Regions from separate parts of the Homo sapiens genome. Here all the other regions are reported to be linked to region 1. The links are microRNA targets in miRTarBase. Many come from high-throughput screens and were not tested one by one. Region 1 holds a microRNA gene; each other region holds the end of a gene's coding sequence.

What was found. The annotated mature microRNA hsa-miR-4735-5p reads CCUAAUUUGAACACCUUCGGUA and lies in region 1 at 1,451-1,472, shown strand. An mRNA with a match to its seed (bases 2 to 7 or 8) in the 3' UTR can be bound and repressed. Matches are read on the target gene's strand: a 7mer-m8 pairs with bases 2 to 8, a 7mer-A1 pairs with bases 2 to 7 and ends in A, and an 8mer does both.
Region 2: miRTarBase lists NOM1 as a target of hsa-miR-4735-5p. Seed matches in the 3' UTR shown: 7mer-m8 at 3,303-3,309 and 7mer-m8 at 753-759.
Region 3: the mRNA of THAP8 is a reported target of hsa-miR-4735-5p. The part of its 3' UTR that is shown has no 7-base or 8-base seed match.
Region 4: the mRNA of DIPK2B is a reported target of hsa-miR-4735-5p. Seed matches in the 3' UTR shown: 7mer-m8 at 2,187-2,193.
Region 5: the mRNA of HOPX is a reported target of hsa-miR-4735-5p. Seed matches in the 3' UTR shown: 7mer-A1 at 3,200-3,206.
Region 6: the mRNA of ZNF696 is a reported target of hsa-miR-4735-5p. Seed matches in the 3' UTR shown: 7mer-m8 at 2,804-2,810 and 8mer at 3,103-3,110.
Region 7: miRTarBase lists ARHGAP31 as a target of hsa-miR-4735-5p. Seed matches in the 3' UTR shown: 8mer at 1,067-1,074.

The regions. Positions count from the first base shown.
Region 1 is chr1:196,579,616-196,583,924 of GRCh38, reverse strand. MIR4735 (microRNA 4735) reads left to right here and starts at 1,444; the gene lies at 1,444-1,512. All of the region lies in intron 1 of KCNT2 (potassium sodium-activated channel subfamily T member 2), which reads left to right.
Region 2 is chr7:156,969,128-156,973,436 of GRCh38, reverse strand. It overlaps NOM1 (nucleolar protein with MIF4G domain 1), which reads right to left. Exons shown (of 11, transcript NM_138400.2): 10 at 4,241-4,309; 11 at 261-3,908. The coding sequence ends at 3,734. Among named protein-coding and RNA genes, the nearest start is that of NOM1, 22 kb to the right of the region's middle.
Region 3 is chr19:36,031,805-36,036,113 of GRCh38, forward strand. THAP8 (THAP domain containing 8) reads right to left here. Exons shown (of 4, transcript NM_152658.3): 4 at 3,180-3,788. The coding sequence ends at 3,636. CLIP3 (CAP-Gly domain containing linker protein 3) reads right to left here and starts at 1,069. Exons shown (of 14, transcript NM_015526.3): 1 at 920-1,069; 2 at 388-611. The coding sequence starts at 553. The region is part of intron 3 of LOC101927572 (a long non-coding RNA gene); the gene reads left to right. RefSeq lists a silencer at 3,795-3,968.
Region 4 is chrX:45,147,929-45,152,237 of GRCh38, reverse strand. It overlaps DIPK2B (divergent protein kinase domain 2B), which reads left to right. Exons shown (of 5, transcript NM_176819.4): 5 at 246-3,865. The coding sequence ends at 586. Among named protein-coding and RNA genes, the nearest start is that of DIPK2B, 51 kb to the left of the region's middle.
Region 5 is chr4:56,645,354-56,649,662 of GRCh38, forward strand. HOPX (HOP homeobox) reads right to left here. Exons shown (of 4, transcript NM_032495.6): 4 at 2,645-3,444. The coding sequence ends at 3,367. Among named protein-coding and RNA genes, the nearest start is that of HOPX, 34 kb to the right of the region's middle.
Region 6 is chr8:143,296,204-143,300,512 of GRCh38, forward strand. ZNF696 (zinc finger protein 696) reads left to right here. Exons shown (of 3, transcript NM_030895.3): 3 at 1-3,749. The coding sequence ends at 597. Among named protein-coding and RNA genes, the nearest start is that of ZNF696, 6.9 kb to the left of the region's middle.
Region 7 is chr3:119,415,714-119,420,022 of GRCh38, forward strand. ARHGAP31 (Rho GTPase activating protein 31) reads left to right here. Exons shown (of 12, transcript NM_020754.4): 12 at 1-4,309. The coding sequence ends at 551. Among named protein-coding and RNA genes, the nearest start is that of TMEM39A, 46 kb to the right of the region's middle.

The DNA.
Region 1 (4,309 bases):
AACTGATTCATTTTTACATATCATCAAGACCTTCAGTACCCTATATATTTCCATGCTTTCCACCCATTTTTAACCTGAACTTTTCTTTCCTGGCTCTTATTTACTCTTCTATCTTGTGCATTCTTTCTTCTGCCCTATGGCTCTACTTACGTTTCTCTTAAAATTTCTGATGATCTTTTTCATGCCAGGTCCAATGAACAATTTTTTTTTTCTGATTCTCCTCCTCTTTCTTGAAACTTCCTTCTCTTGATTTCTATGATATCATTCTTCTTTGTTTTATGTCCTACTCATCTTATCCTAGTTCTCCTTTACAGTCTTCCCTTCTTTTATTTAGCACTAAAAATTATGTTTTATCAAGGATTCTTCCTTGGTTCTTTGCTCTTTTCATTTCTAGTTTGCTTTGTTTAAACTTCAATAAATGTAATTATATGTTGATGATTTCCAAATCATGATATTTGTCTTACTTCTCTGTGCAGAGCTCTAAAACTATATAGACTGCTTTCCACTGGGTGTCTTTTCATGTTCAGCAGACATTTCAATCCACAGTGTCCAAAATTAATTTTGTCATCTCTTTGAAACTATTTACCCTCTGGTATTTTTTGTGTTTAAATATGGTACCAACATGCAACCAGCCACCCAAGGCTGGATTATTAAATTCTTTTTAAAGCTTGGTTCACTACAGATCTCATTGATTCAATTCATAGATGGCTCAAATTGTTGTCCTCATGAGTCCATTTTAATTATTACGCTTCTAATTAATGTGCCTGCCTTTCTCATCTGAACTCTTGAGAGGTGTTTTAATTTTTCTGCCTCAGGTCTTCCTTCTGGCTGCCATTGGACAATTCCTCTCTCTGGAATGAATAACAACCTCTGAAGACATCCCACTCCACCTCTACATGTCACATGATATTCACCTATTTTTTGACCAGTTATCACTTACATAATCTTTATCTCAGCATTTTAGGAAGGCTTTTTCGCTATGCAAATCTCTGTATTTTATAATCCTGTATAATTATATTTTATAATCCTGTATAATTATATTTTATAATCCTATGCAATCTGTATTATCTTCTGTATTTTATGCTTTTCAAACCTTTATTGTACTCTATTTGTTCTACTTTATTTAGTTTGGACAAGCTGAAGCAGGTGACATGGTTCATCTGTATCCTTGCCTGATGCATCACTGAAATGTAAATGAATTGGTGGTGAGAGAATAATTCAAAGGACTCAGTGTTTGAACCAAGCCTAGTCAATGCTGTCAATGCTGCTGTATCTTGGGTGTTTGTGGAGGCACTAAGGTAGTGGCCAGGACTGAAGAAATTGGGAACTTGACCTTATAAGGCAGCTACAAAACTTGCCCTCTATCATTCTAACCAACCCTTCCAAACTTCTAAAAATCTCAGCTCCACTTCTGCAAGTTTATCTTCCCTGCTTGCATAAAATTGCAGTGCCTAATTTGAACACCTTCGGTATTCATCAAAAATACCAAAGGTGCTCAAATTAGACATTGCATTTTTTGCGCATGTCAAGTTGAAATCTATTCATGGATCTTTAGCTCCTTAAGAGAACATGCATATAACATTACTTTTTACTAGCATTCTTCCAAGTACTTTACATGCCCAACGAGAAAGCATAATATTATCCCCATTGTACAGCTGAAGAAACAGGCATAGAGAAGTTAAGTAATCCGTTGGTGATTACAAAGCTAGAAAATGGCAGAGCCAGGAACTTGAACCCTGTTTTTCTTGGCCATTAGGCTTGCTGGAAGGGGATACTAAGATGTAGGAAGGGAAGGTGGAGATGAGGGTCTTTGTTGATTTTCCTAAAAAAGTTGGCGTTGTACTGGCATATGGAGAGAAGTTGATAAGTAAATATTAAATACATACATGTTGGTTTTGAAATATATGATAAGACTTTTTAAAGTCTACCTGAAGAACTGGCAGTATTATTGGTTCTCCCACAGAATTTTCTTATGAAAGACATAATTTTCCTGAAATGTGAACATAGAGGCATTTGTGATGCCTATTATCCAGCTGTCATCTGTCTATTCATGTTGTACACATCTACTATAATTTAAATAGGAGAACAACAAAATGAAAGACTTAGTTTTCAAAACATAAGTAATGGAAGAAAGTGAATTTGATATATTTTTATGACAGCTTTTAGTAAATACTTTTAAAATGAACTGAAGTTAATTTATGCTTGAGTGGGATTTCTTTCTCTTTTTGGAAAGTTTTTATAAATAAATGAAAGAAAATATGTTCTTACTAATAACAGTTTCCCCTCCATCTTTCCCCCATCTCCTTAGGATACTTGTGGAATGTCTCTAGAGTGAGTCGGCCACTGAGAGGACTTTGTATTGTGTTAACTTCATTATATTGAAATTTTGGAATAGCCTCAGGGAATAAGGGACAGAAAAAAATGGGGCAATATTCACCCGGTGGCATTCATTTTCAGTAAAGAGCAAGTAAAACCCTTTATTAAATTTAATGTTTTATTTTTGCTTAGTTTGGAATATACATGTGTATTTCACATATATAAAAATAGAACTTTTTTTACTAAACTGGTCCAGATCTAGATATTTATAGGCATATGGAATTTGGAGGTTACAAAATTAACTTCTAAGAATAAATATTTCCTACTCCTCAAGTATCATGTAAGAATAATTTTTCTATGACAATAAAAAAAGCGAAACACTACAATCTGACCCATATTTTCTTGCCACAGATTAGCATTTATGTGATCTTATTCTAAGCCTATGTGGTACAGAAAGGTAAAAATGCTAAAAGAATGACTATATCACATATATACTAATATTTCAATGTTTAATTTTCTGAAAAAAAAACTGTACGTTTTGTAAATAGCTGTAGCAGCTATAGTCAAGATGATTTCTTGAGAAGAAATTACCTGTTCTTTAAAAAATGTTCTTGCCAAAATAATGATTGTACATAGCTCAAAAATCAGCTATTATTAGAAGGCTTACAAGAAAACAAGAACAAGTAAAACAACAATAACAAAAACCATCTGGCCCCTGCCTTCACCTTGTCAGCTTTTCCATGATGTACTTTTCAGAAAGAAACACTTTGAAGCCTTTTGAGTGTTTTTCCCTGCTTTTATTCTCTATAGTCAGTTTCACAGTTTCTCAATTTGAGGGAGTATTCATTGACTTCCTACTATGAAATATAAGGATTTAGCAGTCTAACTATACCATCACAACACACATCTCACTCCCCATTCTTCCAATACAGTAATTATTTTTGTTTAGAGCAATACCATGTATGCATATTATATGACTATTTCAGTTTTGCTCAGAACTGAGTAATGAGTATTATGATTATCATTTTCTTATTCAACTGTCTTTGTTTCTAAGTATATACACATTTTCATTTTGTTGTCTGCTAAGTTTTCTAGTTACCTATTGATAGTGTTTCACCAAGCACTGTGGTAGAACTATAAAGCCTTTCTCAGGGTAATCAAACACATCAGACAGTGTACCTGTGGGGAAGGTCCAGGTTATGCTGTGGAAAGAAACACTCTCAGATCCTCCGTGGTTCTCTTCTGTGGAGTTACTCAGGAACTCCCTCCCCTCCCACTGAACCATCTTCAAGCTTCATTCTGTACCCACATTTCTGTGGGATTGTTTATCACTTTTTTCTCTGTTGAGCTGGGGCTTCCATTCTATTATTTCTTCCATTTAGTATTTCTGGAGCTGGGACTTCCATTCATAATAAATCCATTATCTTAGGAATGCTCTTCACTTTCTTTACTTGAGTGTCCTATTTGCTGGATTTGTTTATTCTTTTGTATTGGTGAAGCACATTTTCCAGAAGCTTCCCTAGAAATGGTTTCAGGAGGAAAAGTTTTGAGCTTGTGCATGTCTGAAAATCTTTTTATTCTACCTTTCCACATGAATGGAAACATTTCTAGGTTGGAAAATTATTTTCTGTCAGAATGTGGAAGCCATTTTTCCATTCTTTTATCTTTCCATGTTTCTATTGAGAGGACCATGAACATTCGAATGAGACTTGCTTCCAGCCAATGAAAGCTGTATCACCAATGAAAGCTGTATCACCACTTTTCTGATATTTCATGATGCTGTACTTTAGTGTAGGTCTTTTTAAAAATTTAACTGGGAGGAGTGTGGTGGCTCATGCTCATAATCGCCGCACTTTTGGAGGGAGAGGTGGGTGGATCACATGAGGTCAGGAGTTCCAGACCAGCCTGGCCAACATGTTGAAACCCCTTCTCTACTATAAATACAAAAATTAGCCAGGTGTGGTGGCACATGCTTGTAATCTCAGCTATGGGG
Region 2 (4,309 bases), not on the chromosome of region 1:
ACCTCCCCCCACTGGGTTGAAGTGATTCTCCTGCCTCAGCCTCCCGAGTAGCTGGGATTACAGGCACCTGCCACTATGCCTGGCTAATTTTTGTATTTTTAGTAAAGATAGGGTTTTGCCATGTTGGCCAGGCTGGTCTCGAACTCCTGACCTCAGGTGATCCACCTGCCTCGGCCTCCCAAAGTGCTGGCATTATAGGTGTGAGCCACCGTGCCCGGCCAAGCTGGTCTTTCAAAATAAACATTCACTGTTACTCTAAACAAAATATAAAAAATAAATTTTATTTATGCATTTCAATACATTAAAGTTTGTTCCTTATACCTTTAAAAATGATACCCTGAAAGACAGCTGTTTAGTCATTCTATACATTAGCAGTTCTCAACCTGCATTGTAAAGTCCACAAGTTCATACATAACACTGAGCACTAAGCATCCTGCAGTATTTTAAGTGTATTTTCAATTGCACTGTAATAAATTTCAAAAAACCCCCTATATATTTAAAAGCAATTCTGAATTCATAGCTTTTAATCAAGATGTACTCATTTACTATTTATACGAAATTACAATTACTATCTAACAGCCCATATATGTTGGGTTTTTGTTTCTGCTTTTGAGAGTTTCACTCTTGTTCCCAGGCTGGAGTGCAATGGCACGATCTCTGCTCACTGCAACATCCGCCTCCCAGGTTCAAGCGATTCTCCTGCCTCAGCCTCCCGAGTAGCTGGGATTACAGGTGCCTGCCACCATGCCCAGCTAATTTTTATATTTTTCATAGAGACGGGGTTTTGCCATGTTGGCCAGGCTGGTCTCGAACTCCTGACCTCAAGTGATCCACCCGCAACCTCCCAAAGTGCTGGGATTACAGGCGTGAGCCACCGTGCCCAGCCCTGTATGTTGTTAAAATGAACAGACTTACAGGCAATCTGCCATGTACTAAATGCAAACCATAGCTAATAATTTAAGTCATACATATAACTCTCTAGCAAAGAGAGGTATTTTTGTTTTAATAATAAAATATAAAAATGGGATTGTTTATAGAAATTCATCTTTTGCAGAAAAATCAGCTTCAATTCTGTACCTCAAACATGGGTTACTGCATATGGTACATCATGAAATCAGGTGGTGCCACTGTCGTGATAGTTTTTCCCATCTTAGTAGCCGCACCCATAATTAATGCCTACTCACATCAAGTTAGCACCACTCAAATGTGGGCCATTCACAGGCAGCCAGGGATCCTCTTGGTCCGTGAGGTTGGGGGCTTGCATCAGAATGCAAATCTACCGAGGCGTGAAGCACAATTTAGTTCAACTGACATTTTTTCCTTCACAGTAAGACCTTCTGGAGGAAGGAAGCAGTGTGTTGATTTATACCTTAGCCCAAGCTCCTTATTTCACTATCAAGCTACAAGTCCAGTAGAACTGATCTGTTACATCCCAATCACCACCCAGCAAAGACACTCTTGTTAAAAAGCTCCTTAACAAAGGGAAGATTTTCACTTAATTCACTCTTCTCTTAGTACCTGTCACCTTATTTGTCCTCTAAATTCAGAACCTGCTAGAAGACATAGGGTTTGAATCTGGCTTCGGGTCGAATGATGTTGCTGAATGCAGGGTTAGAAGTCTGTAGGGACGACACAGTCTCTGTGCTGCTTTCAGTTACTTTCTGTATTCAGTTGTTCATGTTGCTTGCGCATGCTTCAAAGCTTAAACCATTAGTTTAGGGATATGCACAGATACTGATGACTTCACATCACGATTTCCAAACACAAACTGCCATAGGGTCGAGCTAAAATAAAATTTGAGGCCAGGCACGGGGGCTCACGCCTATAATCCCGGTGTTTGGGAGGCCAAGGTAAGAGGATCACTTGAGGCCAGCCTGTATAACATACGGAGATCTTGTCTCTACTGCTTGTGGTCCTAGCTATCCGCGAGGCTGAGGCAAAAGGACCGCTTCAGTCCAGGAATTTGATGCTGCGGTAACTATGATCGTGCCACTGCACTCTGGCCTGGGTGACAGAGTGAGCCTGTCTCTCTCTTAAAAAGTAAATAAATAGTATCTGAAAGTGCCACAAATGGGGCGTTTTGCCCAGGAGAGGCATCACCAGCACCTGTGCCCATCTGCCCAACGTGACCACTCTGAAGAGGACGGTGACTGCTGGACAGATGAGTTTTGGACATATATAACCTCTCAATGTCTATTCTGTATTCACATCTTAGTGACTTTTTTCAACAATCAAAGGTAAGATTTAAATTGAGTCTGTAGCATTTGAGAGAGAAAAGCAAAATTGAAGGGCTGAGAAAACAATAAACATTTGGGTATCTGCAATACATGCTGTTATCTAGGGACATTTCTGCTTCCTCCCAGAATCAGTTTTCCATACTTAGTGAGTGGGGTGTGTTTGTTTCTCCCACTAGACGGATGTTAATTCTTTGCAGGCAGTAACTATATTTTCTTCATGTTTACATCTCCAAATCCTTGCAAGCAAGTAGCACCTATTAACAGTCAAATAACTACTGTTTGGTGACCTCAGAGTTGTTTAAGATGGTACATTTACAATCTGGAATTGGTGAGGAGATGAATATCCTCAACTGTGTGAGAATGTTACATGAATGATGAAAAGCACCTGTCTGCATTACAGTGTACATAAGGCCATATCCACAGGGCTTATGTCGACTGACTTTGCCAAAGTTAATTGCAACCTAAATACTTAAAACAGTATCAAGAATCACATTTAAGCTGGGCGTGGTGGCTCAAGCCTGTAATCCCAGCACTTTGGGAGGCCGAGATGGGTGTATCACCTGAGGTCAGGAGTTCAAGACCAGCCTTGCCAACATGGTGAAACCCATCTCTACTAAAATACAAAAATTAGCCGGGCGTGGTGGCGTGCGCCTGTAGTCCCAGCTAAAGAGGCTGAGGCAGGAGAATCGCTTGAACCCGGGAGGTAGAGGTTGCAGTGAGCTGAGATTACAGGACACTGCACTCCACTCTGGGTGACAGAGCAAGACTCTGTCTCAAAAAAACAATCACCTTTAAGGGATGGTTTTTGAACTTCTAACCAATATTTTAAAAAGGTAAAAACCTCATCAATTTCTTTATAACTGCACCCTCTAGTGGCCTGTTTTATCTATTAATTTTTTTTTTTTTTTTGACAGTCTCACTGTCAAAAGTCTCACTGTCCAGCCCAGGCTGGAGTACAGTGGTACAATCTTGGCTCACTGCAGCCTCTACCTCCAGGGTCCAAGCAATTCTTGTGCCTCAGCCACCTCAGTAGCTGCTATTACCAGCATGTGCCATCATGCCTGGCTAATTTTTATATTTTTAGTAGAGACAGGGTTTTGCCCAGGCTGGTTTCAAATTCCTGGCCTCAAGTGATCCGCCCACCTTGGCCTCACAAAGTGCTGGGATTACAGGGGTGAGCCATCACGCTCGGCCATATCTATTAAAAAATTTTAAGACAATCATACACACCAGCCTCACTGCTTAGAGAACCCTGTCCAGTGTGCCTGACCCCTTTTCCCTCCCTCCTTCTCCTCTCACCCCCAAGATAGTTATTTGAAAATGGCTTGAAATACAAACAATAAAACCTTAGATCAAAAAAAATCTCAAAATATAATACATTAACAGACAATGATATAGCTCTACCAAACATTCACACGCAGGCAACAGAATAAGCCTTTGGGTTTACCAAGGACATTTTACAGTCAAAGGGCCACCTGCCCTCCTTCCTTCCCTGACTACATTCTCAGGGAAGCTTTTCCTTGCAGACACTTCGTTGCAAGGTCAGCTTTCTCTCTCAGCACGTTGGCTTCGTCGGCGCTTCTGTGGGCCTGTGCGTTCTTTAGCAAGAAGTGGCTGATGAAAAGCTTCAAACCCTCACGTAACACCCCCAGCTTTGGGTTGTCAGATACTCTGGAAAGGAATCGTATAAACACATGTCAGGGCTGAGCTGGCCTCTCCTAGATCTCAATCCTGGGTATCTCGCATAGTGAGACATAACCAGTTTCTTTTAAAAATAAAATTCTCAATTAAGAACTTCTTAACATATTTTATTATTAACAATCATTGTTAGTTTGCTAGCAGACAAGTTTCTATTCCCCAGATCTAATGCATACCAGCTTAAAAATAAAACCGAAAAGATTAAGCTACACGTATAGTACAACCTTGTGTTTGTAAATCAACACAAGTGAAAACAATCTCTTCATTTCTCTTCCATGTCTCGTCGGAAAGGGTGGGGCACATACCTTGTGAAAATTAAACTGAGGTCTTCAACTTCTGTTTCCATTAATAGGATACTTAATACTTTTCGTAAA
Region 3 (4,309 bases), not on the chromosome of region 1:
AAAAATTACATTATGGTTTAATACCTATTTGTGTGGCTGTTACTGAGGCCTGTGAGTTGTCTCAGGGCAAAGACTGGGTCTCTCTTGCCCCCTGCTGTGGCCCCAGCCCCTAGCATAAAGCCAGGTCCACAGCCGCTTTCAAAAAATGATTGTTGAATGACTAAATGATGGAATGATGTGTCATGAGTCAAAGACTAGGAGTATTACAATTCCATTCTCCAATGGGTGAATGAATGAATTAACGAGGGGTGCTCTGCAGCCAAGATTCCTCTGGACCACCTTCAAATTCCCCAGAATTCTCCCACCATCACCACCAGCAGAGCACAGCCCACCCTCCCCGGCCACCCAACGCTCCAGGCCAGATTCCAGGGTGGGGACAGTGGTTACCGTAGTCCTTAGGGAGGGGGGCAGGTGCCGAGGGGTGCACAACAGGCTTCTGCCGGCGCTCCTGGGTGGGGCTGGGGGCCTCGGGGACGGGTTCATCCTCCTCCTCCTCTTCTTCCTCCTCTCCTCGGGGTGGCGGGGCCATCGGGGCAGGATCTGTCTTAGTCATGGTCCTCGGTGGCCCTCGGGGGGCGGGTGCAGAGTTGGGGGCAGCCTTCAGGCAAATCCTGGAGGCAGAGGTCAGCTGGAGAGGGTGCCCGGCAGGCTCCAGGGTCCAAGCCCCTAGGAGCTTCCAGGGCCCCGGGTGGCCTCCGCGCAACTGGATCTTGGGCAACCATAGGGACCCCCGTTACCCATAGAGGGCCCCGGTGTGTGCGCCCAGCGCCTGCCACCTCCCCCAGGCCCAGCCCCCCATTCTTCTCCTCCCGCGTCAGGCCCCTCAGTCGCGGCTGCCCCCTCCCCGGGTTTGTTTATCTCGGGATTCAGGATGCTTCGCCCCTCCCCTTCTCCGCGGGCCGCCCCCTCCCCATCTTACCTCGGGCAGACAGCGCTGGGGACCAAAGTGGAGACTGGGGAGACTGTGGGAGCAATGGGGTGTCGGTGTCAGGGGACGTGATGGGGGAGGCAAGGGAGACAGAGAGAAGGGGACGAGGCCCAGACGCCGACAGGGGGTGGGGGCGGAGAGGGAGGGGCGCGACTGCGCATGCGCCTGCTGCCCCCCTACCGGCGGCGGGGGAGGAGGGACCAGGAGGAGGGACCGGGAGGCGCTCGCATTGATGGAGGGGCCAGAGGCGGCGACTGAAAGGGGAGAGCCTCCGGGCACTGGGAGAGGAAGAGATGGCTACGGAAAGGAGCGAGATGAGCAGATACAACGGCAAAAGAGAGGGCTGAGAGAGCGGACACAGATCTTCTCCATCCCCTTCCCCCACGCCTGCAAACCAGGCCGGTGAGGGCAGTGGTCTTGGGGCGTGGTGACGATGGGGACCCTCTAGGGGACCCTCTCTCTAGGACCCTAGACCGGACCCCTTCTCCAAGCTCACCATTCATAATGGGTGCCTCAGAGGGGTGATTTCCTAGAGACTCCTATCATGATCATCTCATCCTTACCATCATAATGCGAGGCTCACACACTGGGGCCCAGAGGTTAAGCAGCTTGCCCAAAAGTACATGAGTAGGTGATGGAGCGAACATTTGAAACCAGACAGTCTGTAAAGTCTGATTTTTATTTTTATTATTTCCTAGACAGGGTCTCACTCTGTCACCCAGGCTACTGTGCAGTGTTGTGATCTTGGCTCACTGCAGCGTCAAACTTCTGGGCTCAAGCCATCCTCCCACCTCAACCTCCCGAGTAGCCGAGACCACACGTGCATGCCACCATGTCTGGAGAATTTTTTTTGAGACAGGGTTTTGCCATGTTGCCCAGGCTGGTCTTGAACTCCTGACCTCAAGGGATCCTCCTGCCCCTGCCACCCAAAGCGCTGAGATTACAGGCACGAGTCACCATGCCCAGCTTTGATTCTTAATCACCATGCTACATGCCTGTAGCAGTGTCTGGGAAACAGATCTGCCGATTGACCCCTCCAACTCTCTCAGAACCTGTATCTTCCCCACGGAGGCCTCCTGAAGCCAGCCCAGGGTCCTGGCTCCATTGTCATGGCTTGGCTTCCCACCTGGAGCTGTAGCCTGCTCTGCCTCAAATCATCCCAGCCTGGATGGGGCTGGGTGACAGCCTTGAACACCTCATCCTTCTAATGCACAGGTCCAGTAGCTCCATCTCCAAAAGATTTCCAGGATCTCACTCTCCCCACCGCTACCCTGGGCCCTCATCTTGGTCCATCCTTCTTCTTCTGCCACCAGCACTACGGCAGCAGCCTCTTACCTGCTGTCCCCGTCCTCCTCCAACATGCAGCCACAGGGACCCATGAACACCTGTCACTTTGGAGCCCTCTTTCCCTCAGAGGGGTCTGCCTGCTGCACCTCACTCCAGGTAGAAGCCAAGGCTCTCAGCCATGGCCCACAAGGGCCTATGTGAACCTGCCCCATCATCTCTGCACTCACCTCCTCTCACCCTCTTTTGTTCACTCCACCCCAGCCACACTGGCCTCCTTGCTTCTCCCTACCCCAGGACCTTTGCACTGGCTCTTTTTTTTTTTTTTTTTTGAGATGGCAGTCTCACTGTTCCCCAGGCTGGAGTGGAGTGGCATGATCTCTGCTCACTGCAACCTCTGTCTTCCAGGTTCAAGTGATTCTCCTGCCTCAGCCTCCCGAGTAGCTGGGATTACAGGCCTGTGCCACCACACCCAGCTAATTTTTGTATTTTTAGTAGGGACGGGGTTTCGCCATGTTGGCCAGGCTGGTCTCAAACTCCTGACCTTAGGTTATCTGCCTGCCTCAGCTTCCCAAAGTGCTGGGACGACAGGCGTGAGCCACCGTGCCTGGCCTGCAACGGCTCTTTGTGATGCCCGGAATGCTCTTCCTCCAAATCCCTACGTGGCTCCCTCTCTGCCCTGTTTTAGGATCTTACTTGTTGGTGTCTTTTCACCTTCTCTGCTCTAAAACTGCACCCCTTCCTCCCTTCCCTACTATGGTTTTCTCCATAGCAACACCGCCTCCCAGACCTGACACATCCCAGACAGCAGGCCCTCACTGCAGGGGTTGTTCGTCCTCTGGAACCTGAGCCTGTAGCGCTCCAGGCCAGCCCCTTCTGATCACCCAGGTTTCTGCTAAAACATGGCCTTGGAGGGCCCTCCCCCAGGCCCAAACCAAATTTTTGTTGTCTTTATAGCACTCATCGCTCATGTCTGCAGTGTTCTTGTTTATTTGTTTACTAGTTCATCGTCTACTCAAGTAGAATGAGCACCATGAGGGCAGGGATTTTCTCAGCTGTGTCCACCATGGTATCATGAACTCAGTACCAGGCTTGGCAAAAAGCGTGGGACTCCTTAGAACCAGGTATGATTCTCCCAAACAACCCTTGCTCTGCTCTGAGGCTGTCGTACTGATTTGCAAAGATCTGAGCCGGGGGTGGCAGAAGCCTGGTACCCAGGGGATTGGGGGCTGATGAGAGACTTGGGCCCAGGTCACCCCTAAGGTTCAAGAGATCCCTAGGAGTGGGGTGGTAGAACCCAGGCCCTTGAGGGAGGCACTGCTACTACCCAGGCGTGGGCGGTGGGGCTGGGCCAAGCCCACGTATAATGTCTTTCCTCCTCCATCTTCTATCTTTTGTCCCTCGACATTGTCTGTCTTGATCCTTATGCACTGGGGATCCGAGTGTCCAGGAGCTCCGGCTTGGCATCCACTGTGGCAGGTGCAGGGTCCTGGGCAAGGACCATGGCTATGTCAGGCCCTCCACAGATGATGGTGAAGGTTTGGGATTCCTCAGGTCCAAGGGTCTGGGCTGTTGTCTAAGGCAAAGAAGTGGTAGAGATGGGGAACATTACGAAGCAAGTTGCGGGAGAGACAGACAGATAACGGTGAGGAACAGGGAGGCAAAGGTGGCAGGAGGGCGTGTCAGGAAACAGAGAGAGATGTGGGGAGAGATATGAGGAGACAGGAAAGCAGATGTGAGGGCCAGAGAGACATTCATGGGAAAGGAAAGAAGGGTGGGGAAATGGGAAGAGAAGTGCGGGGGCACAGACGCAGACACGTGGGGGAAAGAGATGTGCAGGCAGACAGACGTACAGACAGGGTCAGAGATATGGGGGAGACAGAAAATATGCAGATAAAGAGAGACACAGGGAGGTGGGGAAACAGGTGGCGGACAGAGATGATGGGCAGAAAGACAATGAATGTTGGGGAGGGAGGAGATTGGGAGGTAGGGATAGATGAGTAGGAGACAGAGATTGAATGACAGGAGGGGAGGCAGAGAGAGGCAGTCAGCTCAGGGGATCTGGCAGGCTCCACAAAGAGCCCCAGGCCCGAGTCT
Region 4 (4,309 bases), not on the chromosome of region 1:
TACAGATGCATGCCACCACACCCAGCTAATTTTTGTATTTTTAGTAGAGACGGGGTTTCACCATATTGGCCAGGCTGGCCTCGGACTCCTGACCTCAAGTGATCTGCCCGCCTCAGCCTCCCAAAGTGCTGGGATTACAGGCATGAGCCACCGCGCCCGGCCCCACCCAGGAATTCTAATTAGTGGTGCCCTCCCTCAAGGAGCACTGGTGGCAGGGTGTGTAATACTTCCCATTTCTTTTCTAGGCAGCCAAGAAGCCAACAGGGCAGGAGAGAATAAAGACATTTTTAGCTGCCTGGTTTCCGGCTGCCAGGCCCAGCTGCCCTCCTGCGAAAGCATCTCTGAGAAGCAGAGCCTGGTGCTGGTGTGTCAGAAGTTGCTGCCTCGACTTCTCCAGGGGAGGTTCCCCTCCCCAGTGCAAGACGACATAGACTCCATCCTTGTTCAGTGTGGGGACAGCATCCGCCCAGACCCAGAAGTCCTTGGGGCCGCCAGCCAGCTGAAAGACATCTTGAGGCCCCTGAGAACGTGTGACTCCAGATTTGCCTATCGTTACCCAGATTGCAAATATAACGATAAGTTCTGAAGGGCTGGTGTCTAGCTGGCCTTGGGGACAACACGCTTGGCTCTCCATTCTCCCAGTCGGGTTGCTGCAAGGTAGAAAGAAGCAGCTCTTTTTTAAAGATGAGAAGAAAGGCACACTCATTTCTTAGGGACTGAGAGGGGAGTTGTGAGATACCACGTGGCTGTCTCTGCTGGCTGGGACGTCCTGGCAAAGCCCGCGGTGGGCATCAGAAGACCTGGGTGTGGACGCTCACTCAATGTCTTTGAGCCTCAGTTTCCTCTGTTCTCCACCAGACTCTCCTGAGGGTGAAAGAAGACACAGATGGAGCCACCACTGAGCATATATCCCAAGCATGGGTCTTGGGACACATGCTCACCACCTCCATCCCAGGTGGTTACAAAGTGTGTTCTGGAAAAGCACAGAGGCGGGGAGCATGAGAAAGAGCTGCTCAGGTCAGGAGGCTGGAGTGGAGGGAAGGCAGGGGAAGGACAGGCTCCCTGCCACTACCACTTTAGACTCGGACAAGAGGGGCCCCCTTCCTGCTCCCTATGGCCCTGCGTCACTCCCCACACCATCGCGGGATGAGGAGACTGCAGGCCAAGGGGACATGCCTGCCACCACCTAGAGCCTGGTACCTGAGGCTCCATACACCTGCGCATGGGGCTTCTCGTGGTGTGGGAAGAAGCCAGGGGTAAGAAGATAAAGGGGGGCCGGCGGGGGACCAATGTGTTAGCCCAAGTCTTCCAAGAATATGTGTCAAGATAGAGTGAATGGAACAAAGATTTGTTAGGGGAAATGATTGTGTGTAAGGAAAGAAGGAGGGAGCCGGAGAAGATTGGGAGGACCAGTAAGTCGAGCTGCAAGCTGAGCCCCGGTGAAGGAGAGAATGTCTGGCAGGAGCTTGCTAAGCTCAAAATCAAAGAAAGGTTCAGCAAGGCTGTCAGGGTGTCCTCAAGACAAAGGCAGCCATCAGAAGAGCCCCGTGTCTCCCACAAATAGACCCCGTTAGCATCCCTGCTGCACTCAGTGGTTGGCGGAAACAGCAAAGATAGATTTCAGAGCACAGCAGCAGGGGTCCCTGGTCAGCCCCGCTCCCTAGAGCAGGAGATCTTGAGTGGGAGAACATTCTTGTTGTAGCCACAGCTGAGGCCCTGGACCAGCTCTCTCCACACCGCATGCTCCGAGTTGGGACTCTAAGGAGTCTAGGAATTTTCATTCAAACTTGGCCTTACAGGTCACTCATCAGAAAAATACTTTTTTCAAGGTCAACCAATAGAACATACTTTATTCAACAGTTTGTTAGTTTGCTTTTTAAATATTTAGCCACATGGTATGTAGGCTTCCATGTACACTCTTGCCCTGGCCCCTGAAACATAAGCAGGGGGCTCTTCTGTACATTTGCCCAGCTTCCCTGCCAGCCTTTAACCCCAGGAACCTCTCAGTCTACCTCCTCTTTTCTGCCTCTGAATCCCTACCTTTAAAGTCAGAACAGGCCAGGCCCGGTGGCTCACGCCTGTAATCCCAGCACTTTGGGAGGCTGAGGTGGGTGGATCACTTGACATCAGTAGTTCAAGACCAGCCTGGCCAACATGGTGAAACCCCATCCTTACTAAAAATACAAAAATTAGCCAGGTGTGGTGGCGGGCACCTGTAATCCCAGCTACTCAGGAGGCTGAGGCAGGAGAATCACTTGAACCCAGGAGGCAGAGTTTGCAGTCAGCCAAGATCACGCCACTGTACTCCAGCCTGGATGACACAGCGAGACTCCGTCTCAAAATAAATAAATAAAAATAAAGTCAGAACACCTGGCTTAATAGGCCTCACTGTGCAGATGAGGAAACTGAGGCCCAGGGAGGAAGAGCGATCTGTGGAGATATTTCTAGAACCCCTGCAAGCTGAGCCCCAGTGAAGGAGAGAAGGTCCAGTAGGAGCTTGCTAAGCTCAAAATCGAAGAAAGGTTCAGCAAGACTGTCAGGGTGACCTCAAAGCAATGGCAGCCATCAGAGGAGCCCCATTGCTATTAGGAGGCTCCTATTGCCCTCCCCTTCAGCCTCTGACTTTCACCTGTGCTACCCAATTCTGGTTCCTTCACTCCCATTCAAAAATGGACCCCAGAAAAGCCTTATTTTGTGGAGTACCTAGTTCCCTTTTGGGTTTGTCTCTTGACTGCTACGGGCATTGCCCCAGGGCAACCATGACAGTGAAGATGACTGGCCAAGCTTGTGGACTGGCCAGCAAGCTTGGGCTGCCTGAGACGCTTTGAAATGGCTGCCTTCTGAGTTGGTCTTGAGGGTGAAGACTGACCACCCTTCTCACCTGCACAGTCACAGTCCCTCTCCTGCTGGCCTGACTGCAGCTGTCCTCCCAGCTGGCCACCTGACCAGAGACCAGGAGAGAGGCCACAGCCTCCAGACCCTCCAGAGTCCCACGGAGGAAGAAGGCTTACCAGAGAGACCCTCTGATGCATGAGCCAGGCCCCAGCCCTTCTCCCTGCATCCAGGTGTGTTTCCACCGCAAAATGCCTCCACACAATGAGCGACTTTGGCCCTGCGTGGGTCAGCATGTGGTCTGAGGTAACCCTCAAATGCCTCCACCACACATCTGTCCACCTGCACGGGTTCAAGGTAAGCACTTGCCCCCTTCTCTCCTCCAGACCAGTCGCCTGAAATTCTGAGCAACATTCCTTCAAGACTATCATGTAACCCTTGGTGATGCTGAGTCCAGACAGGAAATGCAGACTTGGGACCCACCTGTATCAGCAGAAAGAGGCCTTGTGCCCCGTTTGTCCGAGTCCCAGAACGGAGCAAATGAGAAAACCGGCGAGCTGTCCCCCGAGGAGCTGTAGGGAGATTGGTTTTTAGTATAAATTACAATAAAATTTTGTGTATGTGTACAGCTGTGTTCACATCCACAGTGTAAGCTGTGATATGGTTTGGATGTTTGTCCCCTCCAAATCTCATGTTGAAATGTGATCCCCAGCATTGGAGGTGGGGCCTGATGGGAGGTGATTGGGTGATGGGGGAAGTTGCCTCATGAATGACTTGGTGCCCTCCTGGAAGTGATGAGTGAGTTCTCGCTGAGCTCACTCAAGATGTGGTTGTTTAAAAGAGTGTGGCACGTCCCTCCCCCAACTCTCCCTCTCACTCCCGCTCTCACCATGTGACACACCTGCTCCCCCTTCGCCTTCCACCATGATTGGAAGCTTCCTGAAGCCCTTACCAGAAGCAGATGCCAGCCCCACACTTCCTGTACCACCTGCAGAACCATAAACCAAAATAAAGCTCTTTTCTTTATCAATTACCCAGCCTCAAGTATTTCTTTATAATAATACAAAATGGGCTAATACAAGCTGAGTGCTAAGGAGCAGGGCAGATGTCAGGCAGGCCCTACATATGCTTAGGAGTGGCCTAGAAATAGTTCCCCAGCTAGTGGCTTTTCCTAGGTTCAGGAGATCACAGAGTCCTTTTCTCATACACCTTCACGACAGAGCAGATGTTCTTGTCAACATGCCTGAAGACCACAGGCCCCACTCAGCTGCCTTCAGGGAACATTTTCCTGCCTCCCGCCAGCCACCTGCTAACCCTCCCCCACCCACCCTGTGGTGGACACAGAGCTGAGCCACCCAGCTCTCCCTTCAAGAAACAATGCTCTTCCCAGCATGGCATGGTTGGCACACAGCATTAAGCCATCAGGTCCTTCGGGTTCTGCCTCAGCCACCTTCACTCGAGGTCACACCCTTCCTAG
Region 5 (4,309 bases), not on the chromosome of region 1:
TATCTCAGGCATCAAAGTAAACCTTGCCCTGTCTGTTAGTACTTTGTAGCAGTAGCAATTATTATGACTATTTACAAAGTGCTTTTTAAAAATTTAGTAGAATGTTGCTATCCCTGTTTCACAGTTGAAAAAGCAAACTCAAGGAGATTAGTACTGGTAACATACTTGCATTTAAAAGGACACTGAACCCTCATTCCCTCCCATCACATGCCATTCAAGGACTCTAGACTATTGGGCAGAGGAAGTGATTCTTTTACCATAAATGGGGCTTCTGGGCCCAAGTTAAAGGCACACTCTCTGCCCAGCTGGTTTTGTCCTGGATTGTTCTTTTTTTTTTTTTTTTTTTTTTTAACAGGGTCTCAATCTGTCATCCAGGCTGGAGTGCAGCAGCATGATCTCAGCTCACTGCAGCCTCTGCCTCCCAGGCTCAAGCAATCCTCCCACCTCAGCCTCACATGTGGTTGGACTACAGGTGCATGCCACCAGTCTCCACTAATTTTTGTATTTTTAATGGAGACAGGGTTTCACCATGTTGTCCAGGCTGGCCTTGAACTCCTGGGCTCAAGTGATCTGCCTGCCTCAGCCTCCCAAAGTGCTAGGATTACAAGTGTGAGCCACCGTGCCTGGCTGTTGCTCTGGATTGTTCTTGAATCATCTCTCTAGTGTGTTGGAAAGACTTCTGACCTGGATCTTAGACCTGGTTTAGTATTCCTCTCATTGCCTGACATGGACCAATCACCATACTCAGTCTGCTTTGTCCACAATTTAGATCCCCACTACTTAGGTTGCAGGAGAGGATGCTAGATATGAGTCTGTTTTGCTCAGACCCTGGTGCACTGTGTATTTGTTGTCAGAAGAAAAGTTTTAAGATACAGGAAGAGGAAGCTTGCCCAGGGATGTTTAATAGGATCTTGTAAACATCTGTATTCTAAATAAATAATTGTTAGTGTTTCCACTTTTGGTTTCTTAATTTTAGAGAACCAGAAAGACTGTTCCTGAACTAGAGGTAAGAGTTCAGAAGTGTATACCTGTGTCATCCCAGGCTGGATTAGCAGGTGTAGTTATCAGCCTTTCCAATATCCATCTTTCCCTTCTTCCTTACGAACAGAACCCTAATTTTGCTCAAGGCAGCACTATGCTCATTTACAAGTGCCCCAATTCCCAGACTCCCTTGCAGCTAGGAGTGGCCATGTGACTCACTTTGGCCAATGTGATGTAGGTGGAAGTTGTTAGGTGGGGGCTTCCAGGAAATCTTTTTAGAGAGGAAAGTCTTAGCTGGCATTTGCCCTATGCTTTCCCTCCCTCTTTCTCTTCATTTTGTTTGAAAGGCAGATGCAGTGTCCAAGTATCCATGAATACAAAAGCTGTGTACTACAGATAGTAAAATGGGAAGATGGAATGACCCCAGCTCCTTGACAACATTAGGGAGCTACTCTAACAGCCCTGGATTACCTACCTGGTGATGTCTTACTTAAACACAATCAAGAAAACAAAGAAACAGCCAGGCTGGTGGCTCACACCTGTAATCCCAGCACTTGGGGAGGCTGAGGCGGGTGGATCACTTGAGGCCAGGAGTTTGAGACCAGCCTGGCCAACATGGCGAAACATTGTCTGTACTAAAAATACAAAAATTAGCTGGGTGTGTTGGTGCATACCTATAAGCCCAGCTACTCAGGAGGCTAAATCAGGAGAATCGCTTGAACCTGAGAGGCAGAGGTTGCAGTGAACCAAGATCATACCACTGCACTCCAGCCTGGGCAACAGAGTGAGACTCTGTTTCAAAAAAAGAAAAAAGAAAAAGAAAAAGAAAAAGAAAAGAAAACAAAGAAACAAGCCTATTTGCTTAATCCATTGTAATCAAGTCACTCTTCCATGCAATCAAACACAGTCTTAACTGATAGACTATTAAAATGGTGTCTTACTCTGTTTGGCTGCTATAACAAAATATCTTAGATTGGGTAATTTGTAAACAACATAAATTTATTGCTCGCAGTTCTGGAGGCTGGTAACTCCAAGATCAAGGCACCAGCAGACTATGGTGAGCCCTCAATCTGGTGAGGGTCCATTCCTCCCAGGTGCTTCCTATGTATCCTCACATGACAGAATGGCAAACAAGCTTGCTCAGGCCTCTTTTATAAGGCAGTAATCCCATTCATGAGGGTGGAGCCCTCATGACCTGGTCACCTCCCAAAAGCCCCACCTCCTAATATCACCACCTTAGGGATTAAGTTTCAACATATGAATTTTGTTGGGGGCCGGGGTGTGGGCGGGGGGGATGGGACACATTCAGGCCATAGCAGACATCTAGTGTGCTATGATAGTAAATGAATGCAAATTGAGTGTAGAGTTTGTTAGAACAGTGCTGCTCCAACTTCCACGTGCATATAAACCGCTTGAGGGCCTTCTTAAAAATGCAGGTTCTGATTCACTGGGTCTGGAACGGGGTTTGAGATTCTGCATTTCTCACCAGGTTGAAGCTAATGCTGATGAGGCTGGTCCTGGAACACACTTTGAGTAGCAAGGATTTAGAAAATGGCAGCTCTCCTGGTCAGTCAGCTCCTACCACATAGGAGCTATTATTTTGTTTCTCTTTGATATGTTTCTTATTTCGTTAAAAACCTGCAGAGAACTCACTCAGTGCATCTTCAACAAAAAGTTAAGGTTTTATTTAGAATATCATTTTAGAGACAAAAAGCAGTTCACTTTATTTAGCAAAATAAACTTAACCAATGCATTTAAATATAGTAAATTCAAGAACTTTGGTGGTTTTTTTTCTTAGATGCTTGCTTTTTTGCCAGTTGGAGTTTCTGTCTTCTGGCCCAACAGGCTTCTTTCCAAGTTAATGCAGCTATATTCCAAGGAAGTGTTTTATGAAATCTGAATACTCAAACACCCCTTCTGTATTTTCACTCAACCATCATTGTATTAGATGATACATAAGGAAAGTGACTTAGGGAAGTAAGTTCAGAAGGAAATGTGTTCCCTTCTCCCTCATATTATCTTTTCAACAGAGGCCTGGATTGCTAAATGGATTATGAAAGCAAATTGCTACTGGGAGGTGATGGTCAAAAGCAAACTTAGATGGTTTTCACACCATCTGTCATCATGACTCAAAGGGAAATGCTAGCCACACCATTTTTCCAGTGAAGCCACTGCTTTACACAGAAGATACACATAGCTTCCTATTGTTATTTTCTTTTCTAATTATGTACATTTAGAAAAAAAATACAACACTGTGTTAAACAGCAGGACAGCTAGCAATGGAACATACAACACTATGCTGAAAAACCACAACAGCTTGGTTAAGCGGAGGAGAGAAACAGAGATGGCCTTCATGGAGTGAAGCTGTCAATGCCTGCCATCTCCTTAGTCTGTGACGGATCTGCACTCTGAGGGCAGGCCTTCTGAGCGCCGCCACTTTGCCAGGCGCTGCTTAAACCATTTCTGGAAGAGAGAAATGAGAAAAAATATTTGTCACATACAGAAAAACTGAAATGCCTGTTCCCTTTCTAAAAGGTAGCCTCTGTGGCACAAGTGGAAAGGAGAGAATCAAGGAATGTTCCCATAGGGATGGTTCTCACTGTGACACTAAACTTTCCTGCCTCAGGACCTTTGCACATGCTATTTCCTATGTTTAGAATATTCTCTCTTTATTCTTTATCTGATGATCTCCCTGTCATCCTCACATCTCAGCTTAAACAGGACCTTCTCAATGAAGCCTTCCCTGATCACTCTATCTAAAATGGGTTTCCCACTCATCTCCTTACTTCCCAATTTAGTATTTTGTTACTTTCACAGAACTTTTAGCATCTGTCATGATTTACTTGTGTATTCACTTGTTTTAAATCTATATTCCCTTCTAGAATGTAAGATCCATGAAAGCAGAGACTGTATTCATCCTATCACCATTGCATCCTTAGCCACTAGTACAAAGGTTTAAGAGTTAGAAATTAATCAATATTTGCTGAATAAATAAAAGAAGTTAAAGCATCTCCTTAATGCCCCAGATAGATCTCTATGGCTGCTGTATTTCATCAATGTATGCTCAGCTCACCAAAGGCCTTCCTCATTGGTAGCAGTTAGTAAGAATTTGTTGAATAAGATTAATAGGTAACTGAGCGCTGCACAACCTCAGAGCACTCCTTGGGGATGCATGGAGTAGGCCAGCCCAATCTATCCTGCTCCAGGGCCACTGAGCAGTGAGAGAAGCTAAAGTGGGCCTACCACTTTACTCAGAATCTCTCAGCTCCGTATGACTCAAATATTCACACCTTACAGAAGTGACCATGGATGTACAGAAGGCCCCAGA
Region 6 (4,309 bases), not on the chromosome of region 1:
GGGGAGAGGCCCTACGCGTGCGCCGAGTGCGGCAAGGCCTTCGGCCAGAGCTTCAACCTCCTCCGGCACCAGCGCGTGCACACGGGCGAGAAGCCCTACGCGTGCGCCGACTGCGGCAAGGCCTTCGGCCAGAGGTCGGACGCCGCCAAGCACCGCCGCACCCACACCGGGGAGAGGCTGTACGCGTGCGGCGAGTGCGGGAAGCGCTTCCTGCACAGCTCGAACGTGGTCCGGCACCGGCGGACCCACCACGGGGAGAACCCGTACGAGTGCCGGGAGTGCGGCCAGGCCTTCAGCCAGAGCTCCAACCTCCTCCAGCACCAGCGCGTGCACACGGGGGAGCGGCCCTTCGCCTGCCAGGACTGCGGCCGCGCCTTCAGCCGCAGCTCCTTCCTCCGCGAGCACCGCCGCATCCACACCGGGGAGAAGCCCCACCAGTGCGGCCACTGCGGGCGCGCGTTCCGGGCGCTGTCGGGCTTCTTCCGGCACCAGCGACTCCACACGGGCGAGAAGCCGTTCCGCTGCACCGAGTGCGGCCGCGCCTTCCGCCTGAGCTTCCACCTCATCCAGCACCGGCGGGTGCATGGCGCCGAGTGAGCCGGGGCTGCGGCGGAAGAGATGCCGGCGGCCTGGTGGGCGCGAGGCCGAGGCCGGGGGAGGCTCCTGTCCGCCCCGTGCGCGGTGAGGAAGTAACAGCCGGCTGCGCGCCTGGTTCTCGGGTTGCGAAAGCCTCGCCAGGCCTGCATCCGCCTTGGCTTGGGAGCAATCAGGAGAGACAGGGCTCGGGGAAGGCGAGCGCTGCCCGCGGGAGGCGATTCCCAGAGGCGGGGAGGTCTCAGGGGTCTGTCCCGGGCCGGCCGCCCGCCTCTGAGACTCCCCGCCTCCCACGGTCAGCTGCTGCGGGGCAGTGGCCGGTGATTGAATCGGTCATTCCTCCGCAACCAGGCCTCCATCAAAACCCTGCATGAGATGAGGGCCTCGGGCTTCGGGTTGGTGAAGGCGGGGTGGGGGGGCAGTTAGGAAGGGGGCGCCCAGACAGGGCATGGAAGCCTCGCGTCCTCCCCCGTACCTTGCGGGTCGGTGGTTCATCCATGTATTTCAACGCCTTTTCACAGCCGGTTCATATGGTCCCGACTTCTGTGTGCTTAGAAAATTATGGAACTTGGCCGGGTGCGGTGGCTCCCGCCTGTAATCCTAGCACTTTGGGAGGCCGAGGCGGGCGGATCACACGGTCAAGAGATCAAGACCATCCTGGCCAACATGGCAAAACCCCCATCTCGACTAAAAATACAAAAAATTAATTGGGCGTGGTGGCGTGCGCCTGTAATCTCAGCTACTTGGGAGCCTGGGGCAGGAGAATCACTTGAACCTGGGAGGCGGAGGTTGCAGTGAGCGGAGATCTGGGCACTGTACTTTAGCCTGGGCGACAGAGAGACCCATCTCAAAAAAAAAATTGGAACCTGAGAAGGGGGTCGTGGGGTCCCCGGGGCCCACCGTCTGCACTTGGCATCTGAAGTCGGGGTGGTCTTGTGGGACTGACCCCTTACCCTGTGGGTTCTGCACTAGCTCCGGGCAATTGGTGACAGAATCGAGTTAAATTGTAGGACATCGCGTTGGTGTCTGAGAGGGAGTTGGAGAGCTGGTTGGTGTGGAGGGAAAGGCTTACACACATGTGATTTCAGAAGCGTTCTGTGGGTAGAGGAATCGTTTTCTCTTTGAGACTGTTATGAGTATGTACAAATGTTATTTCCTGTAAAATATTTTCATTTTTTAAAATGTTATTTTCTAGATAGAAAAGTAGAAGTGTCTCTTTGGGGAGCGTTTTTGGGGGCGTATAGTAAAGCTCTGTCATCATGAATTAAGCGAGGTGGGCTTTGAGTTTCTTGGGATGACAGGGAAATGTGAGCCGCCTACTGGCCGTGAGCCCCTGGGGTGCGGTTGCAGGATTCGCCCATCCTGGTCTGGGTGTGGCTTGTGACCACCTCCTGCAGTTCTCTGCCCAGGTAAGGACTAATTGGGAAGAATTCTGGGTCCTGAGCTGGCTGCCGCTTCCAAGACAGTCGCTTTGAGGGCTCTTGGCACCGATTTTGTTAAAATGCATGAGCTTAGGGTTGTGCAGCCTGTAGGGGCAGGGGTGGTCTCAGAATGGATTTGGTGGCCCCACCGTTAATTAAGCTCCTGACCCCTGGGCCGGTGGTGAGGTGGGAAGATGAGCCTGTGTCTCCCATGCTGAGCCAAGATCCTCAGGTACCAGTAGCGGTCAAAGCACCTGCTCCCTGAAGGAAGCTTACCTGGCTTAGCCTCATTCCTGCTCGTAAGTCAGGCATTCAGCTTGCAAAGATCCCCAAGCACACAAGGAGAGTCAGCTGACTGAGGGCCAACAGAAACAGCAGGCAGCCGCTGTCAGCCACAAAGAAACGCAGATCCTGAAACTGTCATCATACAGGTGAGAGGATAGTTATGTGTGAGGTGTTCAAAGAAGTCGCGCAGTCAGTGATGAGAAAGCTGTAGGGTACATACTGTCACGCATGAATAGGCAGGACTCCTTAAAGAACTTTTGGAAATGAAAAACAGGCCAGGTGCAGTGGTTCATGCCTATAATCCCAACACTTTGGGAGGCCTAAGGGGGAGGATCACTTGAGCCTAGGAGTTCAAGACCAGCCTAGGCAACATAGGGCTGGGCACGGTGGCTCACGCCTGTAATTCCAGCACTTTGGGAGGCTGAGGCAGTGGATCACCTGAGGTCAGGAGTTTGAGACCACCCTGGCCAACATGGCAAAACCCCATTTCTACTAAAAATACAAAATTAGCTGGGCATGGTGGCCCACACCTGTAATCCCAGCTACTCGGGCAGCTGAGGCAGGAGAATCCCTTGAACCTGGGAGGCAGAAGATGCAGTGAGCCGAGATCACGCCATTGCACTCCAGCCTGGGCAAAAAGAGCAAAACTCCATCTTAAAAAAATAAATAAATAAAGGAAAATGAGCCGAGTGATGGTCTTAGATATAAGATGGAATGGCAAGCAAATAAAATTATAAATATGAATACATATGTATATATAAAAGAATAGTGTCAACTAAAATACTAGACAACAATAGCATGTAAATTAGAAGGGACAGAAATGTTCTAAGACCCTCCGGTTGTTGGGAAGAGGGTGTAAGATAGTGTTTAATTTGACTTTGATAAGTTAAATGTGCATAGTGTAATTTAATGTTAATTACTAAAAGAGTGTAACCAGTCTATACATCTCTAATCCAATAAAAAGAATAAAACACTGTGATTTAAAATGTAGTCCCAGCTGCTTGGGAGACTGAGGCAGGAGGATCTCGGCTTGGATCCTCAGACCAGGAGTTTGAGGCAGCAGTGAGCTACGATTGTGCCGCTGCACTCCAGACTGGACAACACAGTGAGAGCCCATAAAATAAATAAATGAACTGAACACAAACTTCTGTCAATTAAAAAATAAGAACGAAATCAGGCTGGGCCTGAGCGCTGTGGCTCACACCTGTAATCCCAGCACTTTGGAGGCCAAGGTGGGTGGATCGCTTAAGCCCAGGAGTTCGAAACCAGCCTGGGCAACATAGGGAGAACCTGTCTCTACAAAAAATACAGTAAGTAAGCCTATAGTTCCAGCCACCCAGGAGGCTGAGGTGGGAGGATCACCTGAGCCTGGGAGCTCGAGACTGCAGTGAGCTGTAGTCATACCACTACACTCCAGCCTGGGCAAAAGAGTGAGACCCTCTCTCAAAAAAGAAAAAAAAATCAGAAACAAACTGGGCAAATTAAGATGGTGGAAACAAAACTAAATATGTCCCTAACGACAGTAAGCTGTATAGAATTGCCGGTTGACAGGTAAAGGTTAGGACTGGGTGCAGTGGCTCATGCCTGTAATCCCAGCACTTTGGGAGGCCGTGGTGGGTGGATCACCTGAGGTCAGGGGTTTGAGACCAGCCTGGCCAACATGGTGAAACCCCGTCTCTACTAAAAATACAAAAATCAGCCAGTTGTGGTGGTGCATGCCTGTAATCTCAGCTACTCGGGAGGCTGAGACAGGAGAATGGTTTGAACCTGGGAGGCGGAGGTTGCAGTGAGCCAAGATTGCGCCACTGCTCTCCAGCCTGTGTGACAGAGTGAGACTGTCATACACACAAACACACATAAAGATTAGGAGGAAAATCTGTGACCCAGAGTCACACACATGAAGACAGACAGGAGGGAGGCGTGAGTCAACCAGGGGAAGAAAGGCAAGCTCAGGTGCCATATGAAGTCCAGAACATTGTTTTAAAAAGGAAACTCAAAAATAATGATGG
Region 7 (4,309 bases), not on the chromosome of region 1:
AACCAAAGCAAGATCCCGGAGCCATTAAGTCCTCACCAGTGGATGCCACTGCACCCTGCATGTGCGAGGGACCTACCCTTTCTCCAGAACCAGGCTCGTCTAACCTGCTCTCCACCCAGGATGCAGTAGTGCAATGCAGAAAGCGCATGTCAGAGACAGAGCCATCTGGGGACAACCTTCTTTCTTCAAAACTAGAGCGACCATCTGGGGGTTCTAAGCCTTTCCACAGGTCAAGGCCAGGAAGACCTCAGAGCCTAATCTTATTCAGTCCTCCTTTCCCCATTATGGACCACCTGCCCCCTTCATCCACAGTGACAGATTCCAAGGTCCTGCTGTCCCCTATCAGAAGTCCCACCCAGACAGTTTCCCCTGGCCTTCTTTGTGGAGAGTTGGCAGAAAACACATGGGTCACACCAGAAGGGGTTACACTTAGGAATAAAATGACCATCCCTAAGAATGGCCAGAGACTAGAGACCTCAACCAGCTGTTTTTACCAGCCTCAGCGGAGATCAGTAATTCTGGATGGAAGAAGTGGGAGGCAAATAGAATGATTTCGGTTCACCTGCTGGTGTCTGAAAAAAACCGTGATTCATCTGGAAGTTATTACAGGGCCAGCTTGCCATATTCCAGGCACACGTTATCAAGTTTGGGCCTATTGTGGCCTCTGACTTCTCTTTCTTCAGCCTTTTGACCACTTATTAATTAGTCCATTTGCTAGAAGAGTGGTCAAGGGAAAAACGAGAGATGAAATTTAGTTAAGTCTATGTGAGCAAGTGAGAGAAGGTTAGGTAAGGGGAGAGGATGGAATGCTTGCCTCCAATGAACTTTGGAGCTTGTATGTGAGTCAGATTGCTCCCCTATTGCTATTATCTATTACTCTTGAGAGCTGGCTGTCCTTTGAAAGAAAGAAGTAATGTTCTTTGAAAGAAAGAAAAATCTCTTGCTGTGTCAAACCTCAAAATGTTGCTATTGGGGTTAGAAGGCCTCCTCTTTATGCTTTTTAATGCTCTTTCAAACGTGTTCTTTTAGACCAGTTTTCTAATAAGCTTTGTAAAATGTACTATCCAAATTAGAAGCGGATTTGGAAATGCAAACTAACGTGCACTTAGATATCCAAGTGGGTGAGCTTAGCCACTCTTACCCATGCTCTTTCCCTGGAATCCCTGGAGACCTGTCCAAGATGATTTCCATATACCAGCATAGAAAATCAGAATCAAGAGCAAACTCTGAGACTGGCACAATCCAAGAAGATTTCCTGGCTCTGGCTTTTAGTAATTTGGGACTCCAACTGCCACTGTACTGGACTGTAATTTATAAATCCAGTAGCTACGCAGGGTGGAGGCTGGGCTGAGGATTACCATAATGAAATGTACTAAATCTTCATTTAGGTATGCAATTGTGAAGTGAAGGCATCTGCTTTCTTTACAGTATCAGAGTCCAAGAACAGGATGTCACCATAGATAAAAGCCTCATACAAAGGCAGAACTACACTCCAAATTTAATGTGTTTAAATTGGTGGGGCACCAGCAGAAAATATTCTAGCTCAGCTTTACTCTTCTTCCACACTAGGCTGGGCCCAGCAATACAGGAGAGGATGAAGGGAGGAGCTCCAGGAGGCGAGGGAAGAGCCCTAGCAGGGCGGCCATCACAACCACTCACTGAGAGTTGCCCTTCTTAAAAATGTATTTTATTTTAGCCAGTGGGTCCCTTCCTTTCTCCTTTCCTCTCTACTGCTCAAGAACAGATTTGAGGCCAGGTGCGGTGCCTCACATCTGTAATCCCAACACTTTGGGAGGCTGAGATGGGTGGATTGCTTGAGCCCAGGAGTTCAAGACCAGCCTGGGCAACACAGCGAGACCCCATCTCTTAAAAAATAACAGACTTGAGGAACCCCTCTCCCTTCCATAATTCCCCTCATCCACCGCCCACTCCAGGCACTCACTCAAACTTGCTCTTCAACTCTGTATACAAGCAGAAGCAATAAACCAATCTGATTTTCTTTTCAATTATTTATAACTTTCAATGGTTCTTTCCTTTCCAGCTGGCGAGAGAAAGGAGAACTAATATACCTGCTGGCAGATTTTTGGTGCTGCCCAAAAAAGGACTTCACAGGGCATCTCTTCTCAGGTTCAAGCCTGGCTGAATTCTGCCCAGAAGCTCAGTCATTGCAGAAATTTCTCTAAGGGCTGATAGTACCTCTGGGTAGGCGTCACAACCAAGGCTGGTTCTGGGCTTAGTGGGGGCTGAGATGAAGTTACCTCCTCCAATGAGAAATTGGGAGCTGATGCCCTGCAACAGATATATATTCCTCTCTCTCTCTGTCTCTCTATCTCTCTCCTCCCTCTCCCTCCCTCCCTCCCCGCCAATAAGCCTTACAAACAGTTTTGAAATCTTGTTCTGTACCTTTTAAGCCAGTGTCTGTGGCGAGGGTGACTGGCAAGTCAGCTGATGAGTTCTGCCTTCTGAGAGCACTGAGTGAGCAAGGCCTTTCATCAGTGTTTTGGCCTTCTCATTGGGTGAGGAAGACATTGAACCAACAGCCAACGAGATATGAACCTGTAAGAAAAAAGTCCTAGAATATAGTATTTTTCCCCAGGCCAGCAAAGTGAAGAAATACAGTGGTGACAGATGAGAAAGGCCATGTTCAAGAGATCTGAAAAGTACATTCCTGCCTTATCAGAAAATGTGTCAGACAGGTTTTATGTCAGCCTCAGTGCTCCTGCGGTGTCGACGCTCTGATAAGGACCATGTTCCAGTTAGAATGCGAGGGAGGGAAAGAGCTGCACTTTGCTTCACCATCAGAACTCTGAGCCAAATAATGAATATGTAAACTATTTTATGATTATTTTAAATGTTTGTTTGGTAACATTTATAAGATCTATTTTTATTTGGGGATAGACTGAGAAGCCACCATTTACATATTAACAAGTGACTTCAGTTCTAAGGGTTGAGATGCCTGTGTGGATTTATAAAATGGTTGCAAGATCTTTTAGACTCTGACATTTATAGCATCACCTTCAGGAACACAGTTCTGGGGATGTCATCATGAGACACACTGACAGCTGTGGAGATAGTCCCTACTCTCAGCTTTCCTTGCTAGTCAAGTCCAAAAGGCCTTAGAAGCTGACTCACCTTCTCAGCCAGAGTCCTGCTGCTCAAGTGTGGACCTCCACTTTGACTCTCACCCAGCCTGCCAGCCATCACAAAGGCTTTCATAAACTTCCTGTGGTCTGGGCTAGCCTGGCACTGATGAAATTCCATTCTAAAGAAAGAAAACTCATATTCCTCCCCCCCACAAATTGTTCCCCCAAATGCTCTGGGATTACCTATTTCACCACTCATTTGAGTCTCCGAAAAATGAACTCCCTGAGAATGGCTGGATGGGAATCAGATAGTCTGCTTCCATTCAGGAGAGGGACAGAACAGGAGCTGCTGTGTTTAGGAGGATTTACCTGGTGCCCTAGAAAGGGCTATGCAATCAAATTCTCAAGGGCTCCTTCAAATCAGCTATCAGTCCTCAAAATGGGGGTTGCTGATGTTAAATGATGGATTTGCAGTGAAACGCATGCATGTACTGACGTTTTCTTTCAGCATTAGTGGTTGCTTAAGAAAATAGTAACCTATATTTTCTGCTACACTTGGAATATGAAGAAATCTGAACAAGAACCCCATTAAGACACCTAACCTAATCTAAACCCTAAAATTCAAAATATTGTCCAAGTCAAAAGTCTAGACTCTGAGGACATTAAAAATGTAAATATCATCATCCTTAGCAAATATTTATTGGGAGCTTAGTAATAGTGCACTGGGTACCTTAGCACTCCCAAATCATTCAAGAGTCTAGTGAAAAAGGGGGAGGGATGGCAGCAAATAAAACACCCCCATAAACAACCAGGAGCAAGGTTGAGAACCATTAAGTTGCCAAACAAAAGCAGAAGGGGAAAAAGTGTGGCAACAAGCATCTTTTAATAGGATAGTTGACGGTATTCAAGTGACCTACTGACTCCAAATAATCAAATTGAACACAATTGCAAATCCAATAGAACATCCCAGTGAGACACTCGGGTATTTGAGAACTTTGCTTGATTTAGAAAACTGGAAAGTGGCAACTAGGCTAGAATAGTGGCAACTAGGTTCGGAGGTTTCGTGTGGTCATAATTGGTTTGGTGAAGTGTGAGATCTCTGCAAATGAGCCAGGTAAGATCAGTATTCCATAGTGCTTGAAAAGGGGATTTTAGAGACTTCTGTCATCACAAAGCAGATTAACTCCTAGTTAATGATGAAGCAGTAGGCCCAAGATAAACTGTTC